Regions from separate parts of the Homo sapiens genome. Here region 1 is linked to region 2. Evidence: fine-mapped expression QTL. A gene starts in region 2. The other region holds a variant in brackets. All regions are shown on one strand. Distances are between the middles of the regions.

Region 1 (8,544 bases), 35 kb before region 2:
CTGCAGGGGTCTGGGCTGGGGGCTGAGCTATTGGACAGCAGACAAGGGCTAGGACCGGTTTCATTTCCCCCTTCACAGCTGAAGCTGCACCAGGCCATGTAGTGGGAAGCGTTGAGTTGAATCAGCTGGGTAGAGAGAATGCAGGCATGTCCAGGAGGATGGGGGCACAGCCAGGCCTGGGCCATAGCTCCACGTTCCCAGCATCCCAGATACTGACTCCTCTCCCTCCCGCTTCAGGATCTGTTCCTGCACCTTACTGTACCTGAATGTCAATCCCCCTTCCAATGGCCTCCCTCCACTCTCCTTCACCTCTGAGAAGTACCCTGGCTTGGGTCCCTCACAGCCCCAGCCCCACACCTCGCAGTGGTGCTGCCCGGGCTAACACTCTGTGGTCTGGTTGGAGAACTTTTCCTCCTGGTAGCACATCTCTCCGAGGCAGTGGAAGTTGTGGCATATCTGCGGAAAGGTTTGACCACTGTGGTCACACGCCTGGGGCTGAAGGCATTAGGAAGGCTGTCCCCTCCCTCATATGCTGCTTACCTGGACAGGAGCAGGGGTCAACTGACTGCTTGCCAGGTTCTGGGCTACCAGTAAGGCCAGCAGGAGGACTGATAGGAGGAAAAGGAGAGAGGGAGCCACTGCAGAGGCTGAGGCAGGTGAATCATGAGGTCAGGAGTTCAAGGCCATAACCAGCTCAAAGGTCATAGGTCAAAGAAAGGTCATGCAGCAGTTAAGTGGAAGAGGTCATGAACTTAGGGAAAAGTAGGGGCAGTCCCAGGGTCCAGCAGTAGTCATGGTCCAGGAAAGGCCAGGATCCCTGGGCTGAGGACAGCTACCTCTGAGCAAAGCAGCTCTGTGGCTACCATTGGCCACATACATCTTCAACTGAGGTGCTGCAGGAGCCAGAGAGAGGGAAGGACCAGTTCTGGCCAGCTGAGGAAACCTACAAGCAAAATTTCCATTACTGTACTATGCAGATGAATAAATTGAGGCTGGGGAACTAGGGTGGGGGTGGGTCAACCTTTAGGGAATAAGAGGTCTCAGGGGCTCAGCTTTCGCTTCCTGCAAGTCATACTGTCAGAGTGACACTGGGGCAGGCACAAAGGGGCCTGCATCCCAGTAACAGCCCCCCGAGACACATTTTGTCACTGGCATGGCAACAGCAGCATCCCAGCCTGAGGGGAGGCAGAACTGGAGCAGGTGCAGTGACAGGAAATACATACCCAGTGACTCTGATCTGGTCTCATTTGCTGCCAACGTCAGAAGGTGCCCGGGTGTGGGAAGGTGGGAGTCATGGGCTTCCTCAGAACCCAGGGCAGGAAAACCCTAGGCCACAGAGGGTCAAAAGTCCAGACTCACTTTGTCCAAGTGTTCTTCAGGATTCAGACCCCAGCCTGTCCCTAAATGAGTGCTGAGCCAAAGATAGGAGGTAGCTCTCAGACTTTGGGTTCCTGGATCCCAGACTCTGCCCCCTGCAACACTAAGGGGCCACACCTAGAAAGGTCTGCTAAGCCTGGGTTTAGGTTTTTCCATACAAGGTAGGAAACTGCTAGAGATGAGAGTGGGGCATTATTCCTATCTTCTCGCCCAGCCCTGGAAGCTGAGCACAACCCAGACCCTACCATTCCCAATGCTAATGGGGCATCTGTTTCCCTGCCCTCATGGATGTAATCCTCCATCAGCACTCAGACTTGTCTCTCAAGTGACAGCAGCCAGGGTGATGCGATACACAGGAGAGTGTGCAGCAAGGACTCCTGGGTTGGGCCCTTCTGATGGTGTCAGCCTCTCTGTTGCCCATCCGTCCCCCCCACCAACAAACACTACACTCAAGAAACAGTTCTCTTGCTGGGCATGGTGGCTCACACCTATAATCCCAGTGACTCAGGAGGCTGGGGCAGGAGAACTGCTTCAGGCCAGAATTTCAAGACCAGCCTGGGCAAGATAGTGAGATTCCCTTCTCTACAAAAAATTAGCTGGGCATGGAGGTGTGCATCTGTAGTCCTAGCTACTTGGGAGGCTGAGGTGGGGAGGTCACTTGAGCCTGAGAGTTGGGAGGCTGCAGTGAGCTATGATCATGCCACTGCACTCTAGCCTGGGTAACAGTGAGACCTTGTTAAAAAAAAAGTTTTTGGGGCCGGGCACGGTGGCTCACACCTGTAATCTCAGCACTTTGAGAGGCCAAGGCAGGTGGATCATGAGGTCAGGAGTTCAAGGCCAGCCTGGCCCATATGGTGGAACCCCGTCTCTACCAAAAACATGAAAAAATTAGCCAGGTGTGGCAGCGCACACCTGTAGTCCCAACTACTCGGGAGGCTGAGGCAGGAGAATTGCTTGAACCCGGGAGGCAGAGGCTGCCCTGAGCCGAGATTGCACCACTGCACTCCAGCCTGGGCGACAGAGCGAGACTCCGTCTTACAAAAAAAAAAAAAAAGTGACAGAGCGAGACAGAGTCTCACTCTGTCGCCCAGGCTGGAGTGCAGTGGTGCGATCTCGGCTCACTGTAGCCTCTGCCTCCCGGGTTCAAGCAATTCTCCTGCCTCAGCCTCCCGGGTAGCTGGGACTACAGGTGCGTGCTGCCATGCCCGACTAATTTTTGTATTTTTAGTAGAGATGGGGTTTCACCATGTTGGCCAGAAAGGTCTTGATCTCCTGACCTCATGATCTGCCTGCCTTGGCCTCCCATAGTGTTTGGATGACAGGTGTGAGCCACCGTGCCTGGCCTCCCATAGTGTTTGGATTACAGGTGTGAGTCACCGCGCCCGGCCAAATGAAGTTTTTACACAGTCAGCCCCTCTCCAAGGGGACTTCGGTTTCCAAAGGCCAAAGGTTCAAAGGGCTCAAAGGTTCTACCCAGGTCCCTGAAGCTTTGTGAAGAGCCCAGGCTTCCCACAGAAGCCCCTTTCCTCCTCCTTACTTTGCACAGTTGAGGCTGGAGGGACATCTCAGGAATATGATGGGGCAGGTGGACAGACACTGAGCAGAATCAGAAGGCTGGGCAAAGATAGATGGGTACCTCCTAGGCTGTATTAATCCAGGCTTCTTGTCCATCTCCTTTAGTCTGTGTGCCCCTCCATGGCTAGAGCATATTCTCAATATTCTCTGTGCCCCACCCTATCCCAGCTATAGACCTACCTGCACACTTGAAGGTGCAGAGGGCTGTGAGTGTGCATGCACAAGGCAGGGAGGCTACAGCTGCCGCCCCTGGAAACTGGAAGCTGCCCTTTCTCCTCCCCTCCAATCACTTGTCACCTCTGGGATTTGCCTCTCATGTTGCTGCCACCAGGGACACACAGGGACCACAGAAAAGAAGAAAGCATAGCTGCTGCCCAGACTGTAGTTGGAGGGAGAAAATAAAGCCACTTGAGCAGATCAAAAGACCGCTGTCCCAGCATCCCACTGGGAGGTGCCTTATTTGTCTGGATCGGAAACCTGGCAGGTGGAGAGGGCTCTCAGAAGAGATCAGAGGGAGAGGAGACCAGTGTCCTCCCAGGGTGGACCTGTAATGGGAGGACTCTTCTGGATGAGGGTGGAGAGGGTCACAGGTTCATTCCCACCCTGAGAACTCTGAGCTGAGGCTGACAGTAGGACCTGAAGGATGAGGAGAAAGGTTGCTATCATCCCAAGGATTTTTTTTTTTTTTAATGCAGAGGGAGAGAAATATCTCACAACTTCACTTCCCCAACACATTGGTTACCTTTAGGGTGCTCCCTTCACAGAGCC[C/T]TCCAGCACAAGTTGACCCCAGGGAGGGAAATGGACAGAAAATGGAGAAGAAAGGGATACCTGGTTGAAGCCAGAGACAGATTTCTTCACTTTCATCTGAGAAGTAGAGAGTAAAGACTCCTCCTGGGAGGGCTCATTCCAGGTGCAGCCTCTGGGTTTAGCAGCACCAATCTGAGGGTCAATCCCAGGAACAACTCCCTAAATGCTCCCTGCAGCTTTCCTCCATGAAGAGCTAATTGAATTAACTGTTCCCAGCAGTAAGTGCATTGGCAAAGGTTCCGACTCCATGTCTAAGAAAGATTCTTGGCTGGGCACAGTGGCTCATGACTGAAATCCCAGCACTTTGGGAGGCTGAGGCAGGTGGTCAATTGAAATTCTCTTCCTTTGGTTGACCCTATGGAGTCCAAACCTGAAGGATCACCTCTGAGAACCAATTCTGATGTGGTTTGCCTTCACCTCAGAAAACAGCTGTGCCCCTTGCAGCTGGATGGAGCTGGCCATATGGCTCTTCCTGCGTGCCCAGAGGCTGCTGCTGAGCTTCTTCACCTCTGGCTTCTGCCCTCACTGTCTCACCTCCGCTTTAGTTTTCAAGGTTTGATCTAGCTGTGCCTGGCACATGGAAGGCACTAAAAAAACCCTGAATGAATGAAGGTAACAAATGAACAAGCCTTTGCTGTGACAGGTAAGCCCGAGGTTCCCTCCAAGGTTGTTCTGGCACAGAGTTCGCACACTGACTGCAGTTACTGGGCAAGGGGATGGCAGGACTCCTTAGGACCTGGTCCCACTTCCTCTCCACACTGTAGAGGGAGAACCTATTAACCCTGGAGTCCCAGGTAGCCTCAAGACAGGGTTTTGAGGACTCCAACAGCTGGAAAGTAGCAGGTGCATTCCTTGGTAGCCCAATGCAGCCCCTGTTCTGACGAGCAGTCTGAAGGGCCGTCTTCTCCCCACATTTCCCATTCCAACGCTTTAACTCTCTTCTCAAATGGCAATGTCTCCTTGCACTTTGGGCCAGTTTCCACTAATCAGTGTTTCCAGTTGGCTCAATTAGGTTTAATTATTCACTCACTCTGCTTCAGCTCAGGCCCTGGAGAGGCTGTCCAACTGGAGTCTTATTTTTTTGAGACAGAGTTTCACTCTTGTTGCCCAGGCTGGAGTGCAATGGCGCGATCTCGGCTCACTGCAACCTCCGCCTCCCAGGTTCAAGTGATTCTCCTGCCTCAGCCTCCCAAGTAGCTGGGATCGCAGGCATGTGCCACCACGCCTGGCTAATTTTGTATTTTTAGTAGAGACAGGGTTTCTCTATGTTGGTCAGGCTGGTCTTGAACTCCCGACCTCAAGTGATCCGCCTGCCTCGGCCTCCCAAAGTGCTGGGATTACAGGCATGAGCCACTGCACCCGACCTGGAGTCTTAAATGAAGGAGTGAAGGCACAAGGGAATGAGTTGCACAGGGATGGGCTGAACTAGGAAGGAAAATACCAACCTAGAGTGCAGTGCCACTGGGGTGGGGGTGGTGAAACTTTACTGCCATGGAAATAACCAGGGCAAAAGATTGGTGTGAGGCAGAAGGCTAATTCAAGTTGGGATTTTTTTTTTTTTTTTTTTGAGACGGAGTCTCGCTGTCACCCAGGCTGGAGTGCAGTGGCGTGATCTCGGCTCATGGCAACCTTCGCCTCCTGGGTTCAAGTGATCCTCCTGCCTCAGTCTCCTGAGTACCTGGGACTACAGGTGCATGCCATCACGCCTGGCTAATTTTTGTATTTTTAGTAGAGACAGGGTTTCGCCATGTTGGCCAGGCTGGTCTCCAACTCCTGACCTCAAGTAATTTGCTGCCCTCGGCCTCCCAAAGTGTTTGGATTACAGGCATCAGCTACTGCGCATGGCCTGAGTTGGAATTTTTAAAAGTAGATATATTAGCCAGCCTGCCTCTGCATGGGATGAGTGCGGCACTGGTTCTTGGTAGGTTTTTAGAAAAATAAGATATAAATGTGTAATATAAAGAAAAAGATTAACATTTTTTTAAAAAGTAGATTTATTAAAAAACAGTTGAAGGTCTGAGTGTTGAGAGGCAAATGGGGTCTCTGGGGGATCCTGTCCTGCAGCAGGCCTGACTTTCAGATGACTGTGCTTATAAGGCAGATCAGTGCCTTCCTGGTTGCCTTAGTTCTTTCCATTTCAGACACCACATTTGGATCCTGGGGCAGCTGCTCAACTCTACCCAACTCTACCATGGCTACCTGGGATTGGAGAACATGTGAGTATTAGCTACTTTTACAGTCAAATAGGGATCTTGTAGAAGAAACAGGTAGACAGACCCACCAGTCTCTCATTCTGACCTAGCAAGCTGGTGAAGTCACTGTCGGTCCTAGTTCCCTTGTTTGTTGGGCTGCAGGCCCATTCCAACACAGCCCAACTCCCCCCCCCCCCCCTTTTTTTTTTTTTGAGATGGGGCCTCACTATATCGCCCAGGCTGGTCTCAAACTCCTAGGTTCAAAGGATCTTCTAGCCTCAGTCTCCTGAGTAGCTGGGACTACAGTGCGTGCCACCATGCCTTTTTTTTTTTTTTAATGAGACAGGGTCTCACTATGTTACCTAGGCTAGTCTCAAGCAACCCTCCTGCCTCAGCCTCCCAAGTAGCTGGGACTACAGGCACAAGCCACTGCACCCAGCTCCAACTCCTTTCTTTATGCAAATACAAAAGGCAAACCTTGGTGCGACACTTAGTCCTTAGTAGCAACCCTGGCTCATCCTCCTAGTCTTTCCCTAGTATTTGCATCAATGGCTAACTAAGCTGATGGCAGACCTCATCCTGGGGTAATACTCATTCAGGGAAGCAGCAACAAAGGAGGGTGGGGAAAGAGGTCAGGTCAGATTTACCTAACATGATATGTAGCATAATAGGTGCCCATTAAATCTCAGCTACTAGTAAAGTTGGTGAGGAAGAGGTATGGAGGCGTTAAGACCTGAAGCACTGAGTTGGTCCATAACCCTGGGCTTTAGAACAAGGTCTGGTTTTATTTTCTGGCAGAATCTTTTAAAATATAAAACAGATAAAACACATCTCAACCCTGCAATCTGCCAGCATGCCTTGTTTCTACAAGATGCATGCTAGACCATGAGACTACATAGCAAAGGGTCTTTAAGAGGATTTGGTTGGGAGAAATAGAAAAAGCAGATCTTAGGGAAGCCTGGGCTAGCCCAAAAGCTGAGCTACATCCCTGAACACTAGAGCAGTCCTTGTCTTTTCAGATCCTCGTATGTCTTCTTATTCACAACATTCCCACTTGAGTCTTCATATTCTTCCTGAAAAGGAAGGGGTACACTTTGTTAGACAGCTCTCCTAAAAGAAATGTTTGGAACCAATCTCTAAGTACCTGAGCTCATCCTGGCCTGATTCCATGGCATACTCTGGTACACTAAGATTGGCATTCATCTAAGCCTTTCTCAACTGGGGTTCCACAAGAGAATTAAGTCCCACTGCCCCAAAGCAGCCACCGTGTGCAATGAATTAACTTCTCTCGTAGACATCTAGAATGATATCAGTCATGACCCATCATTAGAGTATCTGAGAAAATAGTTTATTTAGCTCTCTATGTTTAAGATGGGGAACCCTGGTTGAGAAAGGCTGACCTACAACAGCAGTTTTCAAATGGTTCCCAAGAATCCCAGGATTCTGCTCAGAGGCCATTGCAGGGGTTGAAAGGGAAGCCAGGAAGTCTGAGCTTCCCCATGTCCAGGGCAATTCTGCTTGATTCTATTTTATATATCAGAGTACTATATTACAAGTGGAAGAGAGTTTTGCTGCCAAAAAGAAAAAAAATACTGAAAACCACTGACTCAAAAAAAGGGAGGCTATTGTCAGTTACTATGGGACTTGGAGTGAGTCAGTACCATTCCTTACATACATGTCATTCTTGATCTCTGAAACCTGCTGCTTGGGATGACCATCATAAGACCAACAAGGACATCTCCCTGTCGCTATGAGAGTATCATCTCTCATTAGATGCTTTCCTCAAAGGAGATCTAATACATGATACAGAGTCTCGGCATTTTAGTCTATAAATCTCCATGGCAGAACATGAGATTGGGTACTCCCACTTGCCATTTCAACTTTTTTTTCTTTTTTTTTTTTTTGTGAGGTAAGTTCTTGCTCTGTCACCCAGGCTGGAGTGCAATGGTGCGATCACAGCTCACTGCACCCTCGACAGCCTGGGCTCAAGCAATCCTCCTGCTTCAGCCTCCTGAACAGCTGGGACCACAGGCATGTGCCACCACTCCCCGCTAATTATTGTATTTTTTGTAGAGATATGGTTTCACCATGTTGCCCAGGCTGGTCTCCAATTCCTGGGCTCAAGTGATCTGCCTGCTTTGGCCTCCCAAAGTGCTGGGATTATGGGCATGAACTGCTGCACCTGGCCCATTTCAAAATTTGAATGGCAGAATACAATCTGTCTTTTTGTTGTTAAAGAGACAGGGTCTTACTCTGTCACCCAGACTGGAGTGCAGTGGTATGATCATAGCTCAGCAGCTGCCTCAAATTCCTGGGCTCAAGCGTTCCTCCTGCCTCAGTCCCAATTAGCTGGGACTACTAGCATGCGCCACCACACTTGGCTAATTATTATTATTATTATTTTTTGAGAAAGAGTCTTGCTCTGTCACCCAGGCTGGAGTGCAGTGGCACAATCTCGGCTCATGCAACCTCTACCTCCCCAGTTCAAGTGATTCTCGTGCCTAGGCCTCCCAAGTAGCTGGGACTACAGGCGTGCATGGGTGGATCACCTGAGGTGAGGAGTTTGAGACCAGTCTGGCCAACATGGTGAAAC
Region 2 (8,544 bases):
CTTTCTGAAACTCTCTTTTGCTTAACTTCAGTAAGGCAACACCACCTGGAGTGGTCATGTGACCTTTCTGATGGAAGCCTTCCCAGGCCCTTTTTCTCTTTACCTTATTATAAGTGAGCTCCAGGGCATATGAGGGCCGGGCGCGGTGGCTCATGCCTGTAATCCCAGCACTTTGGGAGGCCGAGGTGGGCGGATCACAAGGTCAGGAGATAGAGACTATCCTGGCTAACATGGTGAAACCCTGTCTCAACTAAAAAATACATAAAATTAGCCAGGCGTGGTGGCAGGCACCTGTAGTCCCAGCTACTCAGGAGGCTGAGGAAGGAGAATGGCATGAACTCGGGAGGTGGAGCTTGCAGTGAGCCGAGATCATGCCACTGCACTCCAGCCTGGGCAACAGAGCGAGACTCCATCTCAAAAAAAAAAAAAAAAAAAAAGACAGAGTTAGGAACACAATTTATTGGGGAGAGTAATTTCTGTGAAAGATAAAAAGGAAGAGAAAGTAGGATTAGGACAGGATAGCCTAGACCACAATGCAGATTGGACAAAATCTTGACCAACCCAACGGGGAGCCATGGAGCAAAGATTATTCATCAGAGGAGTCTCAGAGTGGACCAAATTGCTGGGCCCTAGTACCCATACTGTGCTCAGTCACTGGCTGGGAGCTGCCCACAAAATGTGGCCTTGACTTCTTTTTTTTGAGACAAAGTCTCACTCTTGTCCCCCAGGATGGAGTGCAATGGCGCAATCTCGGCTCACTGCAACCTCCACCTCCCAGGTTCAAGTGATTCTCTTGCCTCAGCCTCCTGAGTAGTTGGGATTACAGGCACATGCCACCATGCCTGGCTAATTTTTGTATTTTTAGTAGAGGTTGAGTTTCACTATGTTGGCCAGGCTGGTCTTGAACTCCTGACCTCAGGTGATCCACCCACCTCAGCCTCCCAAAGTGCTGGGATTACAGGCGTGAGCCACCGTGCCCAGCCGGCCTTGGCTTAAAAGCTGAGGGAGATACTGAAAACACTGTATTGTAGGATGTCAGCTAACTATGGTCCTTGCAGCTAAATGGCAAGTTCTTTCTTGAAGTGCATTTGAATAGCACATGTCCAGTTTCCTTTATACCTTTCCTTTAGTATGCTTTAAGGATAGGTCTGGAGAAAATACTTTTCTGAGGACATACCTCATTTGGGTGCTTCCGGTGGAATTCCTTTATTTGCTTGAGTCTATTATAGAATTCAGCAAACTCATTGGGTCCTGAAATGGCATTGAGCTCCTCCTTTCGTAATCTGCAATTTCAGGAAAATTTCAAAGAAGATAGAGCACAAAGTCAGTCCTCTAACCATGGCTCCTCAGAAGCACTAACTCCTGGATTAGCTGTGACTGTCACTTACCCATCCTTATCATCATACAAATCCCTCAGGTTCCCACTGACCTCCATATACCTCTGAAAGGCAAATACAAAACCATCAGAATGATGCAATTTGCACAACTGTAGAGCTAAGCAAACAACAAGGGTTCTCCAGTCAAAGCCCAGGGCAACCTCAAGAGACATGGATATGAGATAGTCTTAACAGTTCTGTGCTTCCTAGTACCTTTAACAGCCCTGATTCCTGGTTAGTTTTTTAATAGCCCTTTAACAGCCTTGATTCCTGTTTAGTTTTTTAAGCAGGTCGATTGGAAGATTACCTAAATGATACATTTAAGGGGTGGCTCCTATCTTTACATACCACCGATGCCTAACTTCCCCTGTAACAGACTCACCCTCTTTGGCCAAACACTAGTTCCCACCTAACATCCTCAAAGATAAAGATGATATTCACTATTTCAAAACGCTTGACTGAGGAGTAGGCAGGCTAAATAAACATTACATAGGCTTCCTTTGTAGTCAAAGTATACTAATTCAGGATGGTACAGGTACATAGTCCCTCCTCCAAAACTTTTGGGACCAGATTTGTTTCAGAATTTGGAATGTTTAAGTTCAAAAGAGGTATCATATATTATGTAACATCCCTAGTGGAATCTGGAGCACACAGTTCTGCAGTAAACCTCATACCTTATTTACCAAGTGGGATAAATTAAAGACCATAAAAAGCCTATCACAGGTTCGGGCCAGGTTTTACTGTCAAGTGAGATCAGGTCAGATTTTGACACCAAATAATCACCCAAGGGGAAAAAAAGAAAATCCTTGGTTTTCAGAGTATTTTGGGGCTGAGGGCTTGTAATCTGATAATCTCCTGCAAATCAGAAGGTCCAAGTAGGTCTTTTATTCCTTTTTAAACAGGTTTCAAACATACACAAGAGTAAGGAACGTAGTAAAATGAACCTCCATTTATTCATCACCCAGTTTAAATAGCATCTTGTTTTTCTTTTAATAAACTGAACTATTACCAGACAAATGCAGTTTAGTAGTCCAAAACGCTTTAAAGTAGTATCCTGGGAGAAAAACACTAACATACGGGGTGTGTTGTGTGTGTGTGTGTGTGTGTGTATATATATATATATATTTTTTTTTTCATTTAAGGGAAGGATTGTAGCTATGCACCTGAGTCATGGACTCTTCATAACTATTGTTTGCACATCCAAGGGATACAGGATGCTGTAAGAATGGGCACGTGTAAGCCGGCCGCGGTGGCTCAAGCCTGTAATCTCAGCACTTTGGGAGGCCGAGGTAGGTGGATCACGAGGTCAGGAGTTCGAGACCAGCCTGACCAACATGTTTAGTAGAAACTCCGTCTCTACTAAAAATACAAAAATTAGCTGAGCGTGGTGGCGAGCGCCTGTAGTCCCAACTACTCCGGAGGCTGAGGCAGGAGAATCGCTTGAACCCAGGAGGCGGAGGTTGCAGTGAGCCGAGACCGCGCCACTGCACTCCAGCCTAGGCAACAGAGCGAGACTCCGTCCAAAAGAAGAAGAAGAAGAAAAAAAAAAAGGGCACCTTTCTGATTAATGAAGAATGCCCAAGAGTTCCCCATTCAGAGAACTGAGGAAGCACCCTCACGTTCGGCAGCCTGTGGACATCTGTCCAGGCAGAGAGCCCGCGACTGGCCAATCCGGTTACCTTTGGCCAGGGACTCATGCTGAGACACCGCACTTCACTTCCCCTCTCTTTTCCCGCCCTCGCCAACCCAAAGAGAGGCAGACAGCTGGGCACTCACATCTTGCATGGCCCGAGTGCGGTGATCAGAATTGATCTGGTCCCGGAGCTGAAAAAACAAACGGTGACACAAACGCCGTTAGTTTGCGTTCTGGAGTAGAAAAGGCCGCCCGAGGGCGGAGCTTACCCGCTCAGCTTTTACCAGCTGAGGCAGAAAGGCCTCTGGGGCTCCGGACCCCGGGAGGAGGTTACCAAGACCGGAGCTCGGAGAGGGAGCCCGGAGGAAGGCAGGGAGGTTCTGAGGGCCAAAGCAAGCTCTCAGAGGTCAAACACGGGATAGAGGCTCGTGCTCCTGCCGCAGCCTCTGCTCAGGCCCCACTCACCGTGGACTTCTTGGTGAGCATCTCTTTAGCCATGACGTCCATGAGCCGTTCCTTCTCCTCATGATAGCGCCGCTGCTGCTCCAGTATTGTCTCCATCTTCCCTTAGTCGCGGCTTCTCAATTCAGACCACCAACACGGCCGGAAGCAACTCCTGCCGCCCAGCGCGCCTGAGTCCCCACGTTGCGCATCAGGCTGCACCAAAGTTCCGCGAGTGCCGGAAGTGCCCCGGGACTTAAGAAAACAGGAGCACCACAAGGAAGGCCAGTCCATGTTATGGAGATGGCAACAGTGCCACCTGCTGGTGGGAGGTGTGGTGGAGCGATGCCGAGAGGTTCGCAGATGCCTCCAGGGGGCATAGGAAAACCCAAGAACCTGAGGTTCAGCGGACGGCTTCCTGCGGCTTGCTGGGGCCGGCTTGGCGGGCAGGTATCCTGTGTGGACTGCGCGAGCAGTTGGAGTGCGGATGGGAGTTGGGAAACCGGAACTTGAGGACGCAGCTTTCAGCATAAATTATGAGAACGTTTTCTCTTTCTCTGGACCTCAGCGTCTTTCTCAGGAAAATGGGAATAGTGGGGTTTTGCTGGTGGTGTTTTTAAAAAAATTCACATGTGAGGCCGGGCGCGGTAGCTCACGCCTGTAATCCCAACACTTTGGGAGGCCGAGGCGGGCGGATCACTTGAGGTCAGAGGTTCGAGACGACCAGGCTGGCTAACATGGTGAAACCCCGTCTCTACTAAAAACAAACAAACAAAAATTAGCCGGGCGTGATGGCAGGCGCCTGTAGTCCCAGCTACTCCGGAGGCTGAGGCAGGAGAATCGCTTGAACCCGGGAAGCAGAGGTTGCCGTCAGCTGAGATCGTGCCACTGCACTCCAGCCTGGGCGACAGAATGAGACTCAGTCTCAAAAAAAAAAAAAAAAAAGAAATTCACGTGTAGAAACGACTTGTCTATCGGCAGCGAATATGTTAAATAAAATACTGTGCATCCAACGAGATCAGGAGATTGAGACCATCCTGTCTAACACGGTGAAACCCCGTCTCTACTAAAACTGCAAAAAATTAGCCGGGCATGGTGGCGCGCGCCTGTAGTCACAGCTACTCGGGAGGCTGAGGCAGGAGAATCACTTGAACCCAGGAGGCAGAGGTTGCAGTGAGCTGAGATCATGCCACTGCATTCCAGCTTGGGCGACAGAGAGAGACTCCGTCTCAAAAAAAAGTAAAATAAAATAAAATAAAATACTGTGCATCCAAGCAGTGGAAGACCAGCTGTGAAATGACATACAGCCTTAAAAAAAATTCTGTCTATATATCTCCACTTGTAGGTAGAGAAATGCAAACATGTCCATGTGTTCATATGTTCACAGCGGCATTATTCATAATAGACAAAAACTGGATGCAGCCCAAGAGTCCATTAACTGGCAAATGGATAAAGTGTGGTATATCTATACAGTACAATGGAACATTATTCTGCAATAAATGAATACTACAATGATGAACCATGAAAGCATCATGCTAAGTGAAAGAAGCTAGACAGAAAAACAACAGTGTATGTCCAGATAAAACGTCCAGAACGGTGTTAAAAGAAAAACACTGGTGCTTGCTATGGCAGCACATATACTAAAATTGGAACCATACAGAGAAGATTAGCATGGCCCCTGCAAAAAGAAAAAAAAAAAAAAACACCGGTTATTACAGCTTGGTCTTTGCCTTATTTGAACACGGTTTGCATAGTTTGCCATGTTTGATTGGCCAAAACTCGGTGATTGGCAAAGAGTAGGCTATGGTCTGTTTACAACTCCATTTAGGTTATAGTTCACAATGTACAGAGAAACCTTTAGGCTAAATTTAAAATATGTAAGGAGGCAGCTTTAGGCTACAATTGAGTTAACAAAGGCAAATCTATGGAGGCAGAAATATGAGTGGTTGCTTGTGACCGCAGGTGAGATTGGAAGTGATTACAAATGCGCACAAGGAATCCATTTTGGATGGGTAGAAATGTTCTAAAATTGGATTGTGGTGATAGTTGCATAACTCTATTCATTTTATTAAAATTAATTGCTTTGTACTGTTAAAAATGGGTGAATTTTATGGTATATAAATTACACTTCAATAAAACTGTTAAAAACTCTGTATGAACTCATATGGAGAGATGGCCACACAAACTGAAAAAAGCTAGATGCACAAGTGTGTATAAAAATAGATGTGCAAAGAGATTATTTCTGTAAGGATATCCAAGTAACAGTAAACAGTGGTTGTTCCTGAGCAGACAGCCTTGGAGATCTGATATGGGAGATTTTTCTTTGTATACACCCCAAGCACAGCATAAAAAGTTATTCTTAAACATACTTTTTCAATTTAAAAATTAATTTAAAACTGAAAATACATATGTGCACATTTATGTTTAACAAAAAAGAACGAGGAGGACATAATGCATCACATTATTAGTAATTTACCTATTGTTCACTTTTTTCTTTTTTTTCTTTTTCTTTTTTTTTTTGATAGGGTCTCTCTCTGTTGCCCCAGGCTGGAGTGCAGTGGCATAATCATGGCTCACTGCAGCCTCCACCCCTGTGGCCCCCACAGGTGGGTGCCACCACCCTGGTTAATTTTTTATTTTTTTCCCACGCAACAAAAGCCACATTTAAAGTTTTGTTTTGGGAGTCTCGCTCTGTCGCCAGGCTGGAGTGCAGTGGCGCGATCTCAGCTCACGGCAACCTCTACCTCCTGTGTTCAAGCGATTCTCCTGCCTCAGCCTCCTGAGTAGCTGGGATTACAGGTGACTGCCACCACACCTGGCTAGTTTTTGTATTTTTAGTAGAGACGGGCTTTCACTATGTTGGCCAGGCTGGTCCTGAACTCCTGACCTCCGGGTGATCTGCCTGCCTTGGCCTCCCAAAATGCTGGGATTACAGGTGTGAGCCACCGCACACCAAAAAACTGCGAGGTTTTTTGTTTTTTGTTTTTTTTTGAGACAGGGTCTTTCTGTGTCATCCAAGCTGGAGTGCAGTGGCACGATCTTGGCTCACTGCAACCTCTACCTCCTGGGTTCAAGCAATTCTGCCTCAGTCTCCCTAGTAGCTGGGATTACAGGTGCGTGGCACCATGCCCAGCTAATTTTTGTATTTTTAGCAGAGATGGGGTTTTGCTATGTTGGCCAGGCTGGTCTTGAACTCCTGCCCTCAGGGTGATCCGCCCACCTTGGCCTCCCAAAATGCTGGAATTACAGGCATGAGCTACCACACCAAGCCAAGGTTTTTCTTTTTTTTTTGAGACAGGGTCTTGCCAAGCTGGAGTACAGTGGCACAATCTTGGCTCACTGCAGCCTCGACCTCCTGGGCTAAAGCTATCCTCCCACTTCAGCCTCCTGAGTAGCTGGGACTATAGATGTGCGCCACTACACCCTGCTAATTTTTGTATTTTTTGTAGAGATGGGGTTTTTTGCCGTGTTGCCCAGGCTGGTCTCAAACTCCTGGACTCAAGCGATCTTCCTGCCTTGGCCTCCCAAAATGCTGGGATTATAGGCATGAGCCACCAGACCCGCTGTAATTTTTTAAAAATTTTTACTAGAGATGAGGTCTCACAGTGGTGCCCAGGCTTGTCTGCAACTCCTGAGCTCAAGCAATCCTCCTGCCTTGGCCTCCCAAAGTGCTGGGATTATAGGCGTGAGCCACCGCACCCAGCCCAATTTTTCTACAGTAAACATGCATTACTTTTTGTTTTTAAAAGTTTGAAAGCAGGCTGGGTGCAGTGGCTCACGCCTGTAATCCCAGCACTTTGGGAGGCCAAGCTGGGAATTTCGCTTAAAGCCAGGAGTTCTAGAACAGTCTGGGCAACATAGCGAGACCTCATCTCTACAAAAAATAAGAAAATTAGCTGGGCTTGCTGGCATTTGCCCGTACTCCCAGCTACCTGGGAGGCTGAGGCGGGAGGATCACTTGAGCCCAGGGGTTTGAGGTTACAGTGAGCTATAATCTTCAAGCCTGGGTGACACCCTGTCTCAAAAAAGAAAAAAAAAGTTTGAAAAAACGGAGGCTGGGCATGGTGGCTCACGCCTGTAATCCCAGCACTTTGGGAGGCCGAGGCGGCAGATCACGAGGTCAAGAGATCAAGACCATCCTGGCCAACATGGTGAAACCCCTGTCTCTACTAAAAATACAACAAAATTAGCTGGGCATGGTGGCGCACGCCTGTAGTCCCAGCTACTTGAGAGGCTGAGGCAGGAGAATCACTTGAACCCGGCAGGTGGAGGTTGTAGTGAGCCGAGATCGCGCCACTGCACTCCAGCCTGGCGATAGAGTGAGACTCTGTCTCAATAAATAAATAAATATAAAATGGAAATAGTGACCTGTGTTTTGCCCACTCATGAGGGTGTTATGGGGATCTTATTTGTATATCGGAAATTTAAGCAGGACTGCCAAGCTTAGGGAAAGGACCCAGTCACAACTCATCTGGGGCTTTTCCTGGGACATTAGGAAAGAGGTAAAGTAGAAATCTCCATTCAGGGAGTGGGGAGACTCAGCAAATGTTTTTTGTTTTGTTTTGTTTTTTGGGGGGTATAAACTTGGAGAGCTACTGTATTTCTTGAATACGAGATGCCATCAAATGTAAAACTCAGTATTATTTTATGCTTTACTAAGGAAGAGAGAAAAAATTGTCAATTAAACAATGACACACCTTTGATTATATGTCTGGGTTTCTTTTTTTTTAAGACGGAGTTTTGCTCTTGTCCCCCAGGCTGGACTGCAGTGGTGCTATCTCGGCTCACTGCAACTTCCATCTCCGGATTCAAGTAATTCTCCTGCCTCAACCTCCGGAGTAGCTGGGATTACAGATGCCTGCCACCACACCCAGCTAATTTTTGTATTTTTAGTAGAGGCGAGGCTTCACCATGTTGTCCAGGCTGGTCTCAAACTCCTGACCTCAGGTGATCCACCCGCCTCGGCCTCCCAAAGTGCTGGGATGACAGGCGTGAGCCACTGCGCCTGGCCTTGATTATATGTCTGGGTTTCTAAGATGTTAAGTCTGAAAAATGTTTGTATTGAAATAAATCAAACAATTTTGTAGCTGCACA

What was found. PIP is the estimated chance that this variant, and not a neighbour inherited with it, causes the effect.
Region 1: its variant is fine-mapped to the expression of SF3A3 in whole blood (TOPMed, PIP above 0.99).

Annotation. Positions count from the first base shown.
Region 1 is chr1:37,951,240-37,959,783 of GRCh38, forward strand. It overlaps SF3A3 (splicing factor 3a subunit 3), which reads right to left. Exons shown (of 17, transcript NM_006802.4): 17 at 5,736-7,024. The coding sequence ends at 6,947. Among named protein-coding and RNA genes, the nearest start is that of INPP5B, 8.5 kb to the left of the region's middle. The variant C/T (reference allele first, on the strand shown) is at 3,721.
Region 2 is chr1:37,986,396-37,994,939 of GRCh38, forward strand. SF3A3 (splicing factor 3a subunit 3) reads right to left here and starts at 3,627. Exons shown (of 17, transcript NM_006802.4): 1 at 3,475-3,627; 2 at 3,153-3,200; 3 at 1,389-1,441; 4 at 1,178-1,283. The coding sequence starts at 3,570. It also overlaps the pseudogene RNU6-510P. RefSeq lists enhancers at 2,879-2,978, 3,679-3,848, 4,240-4,785.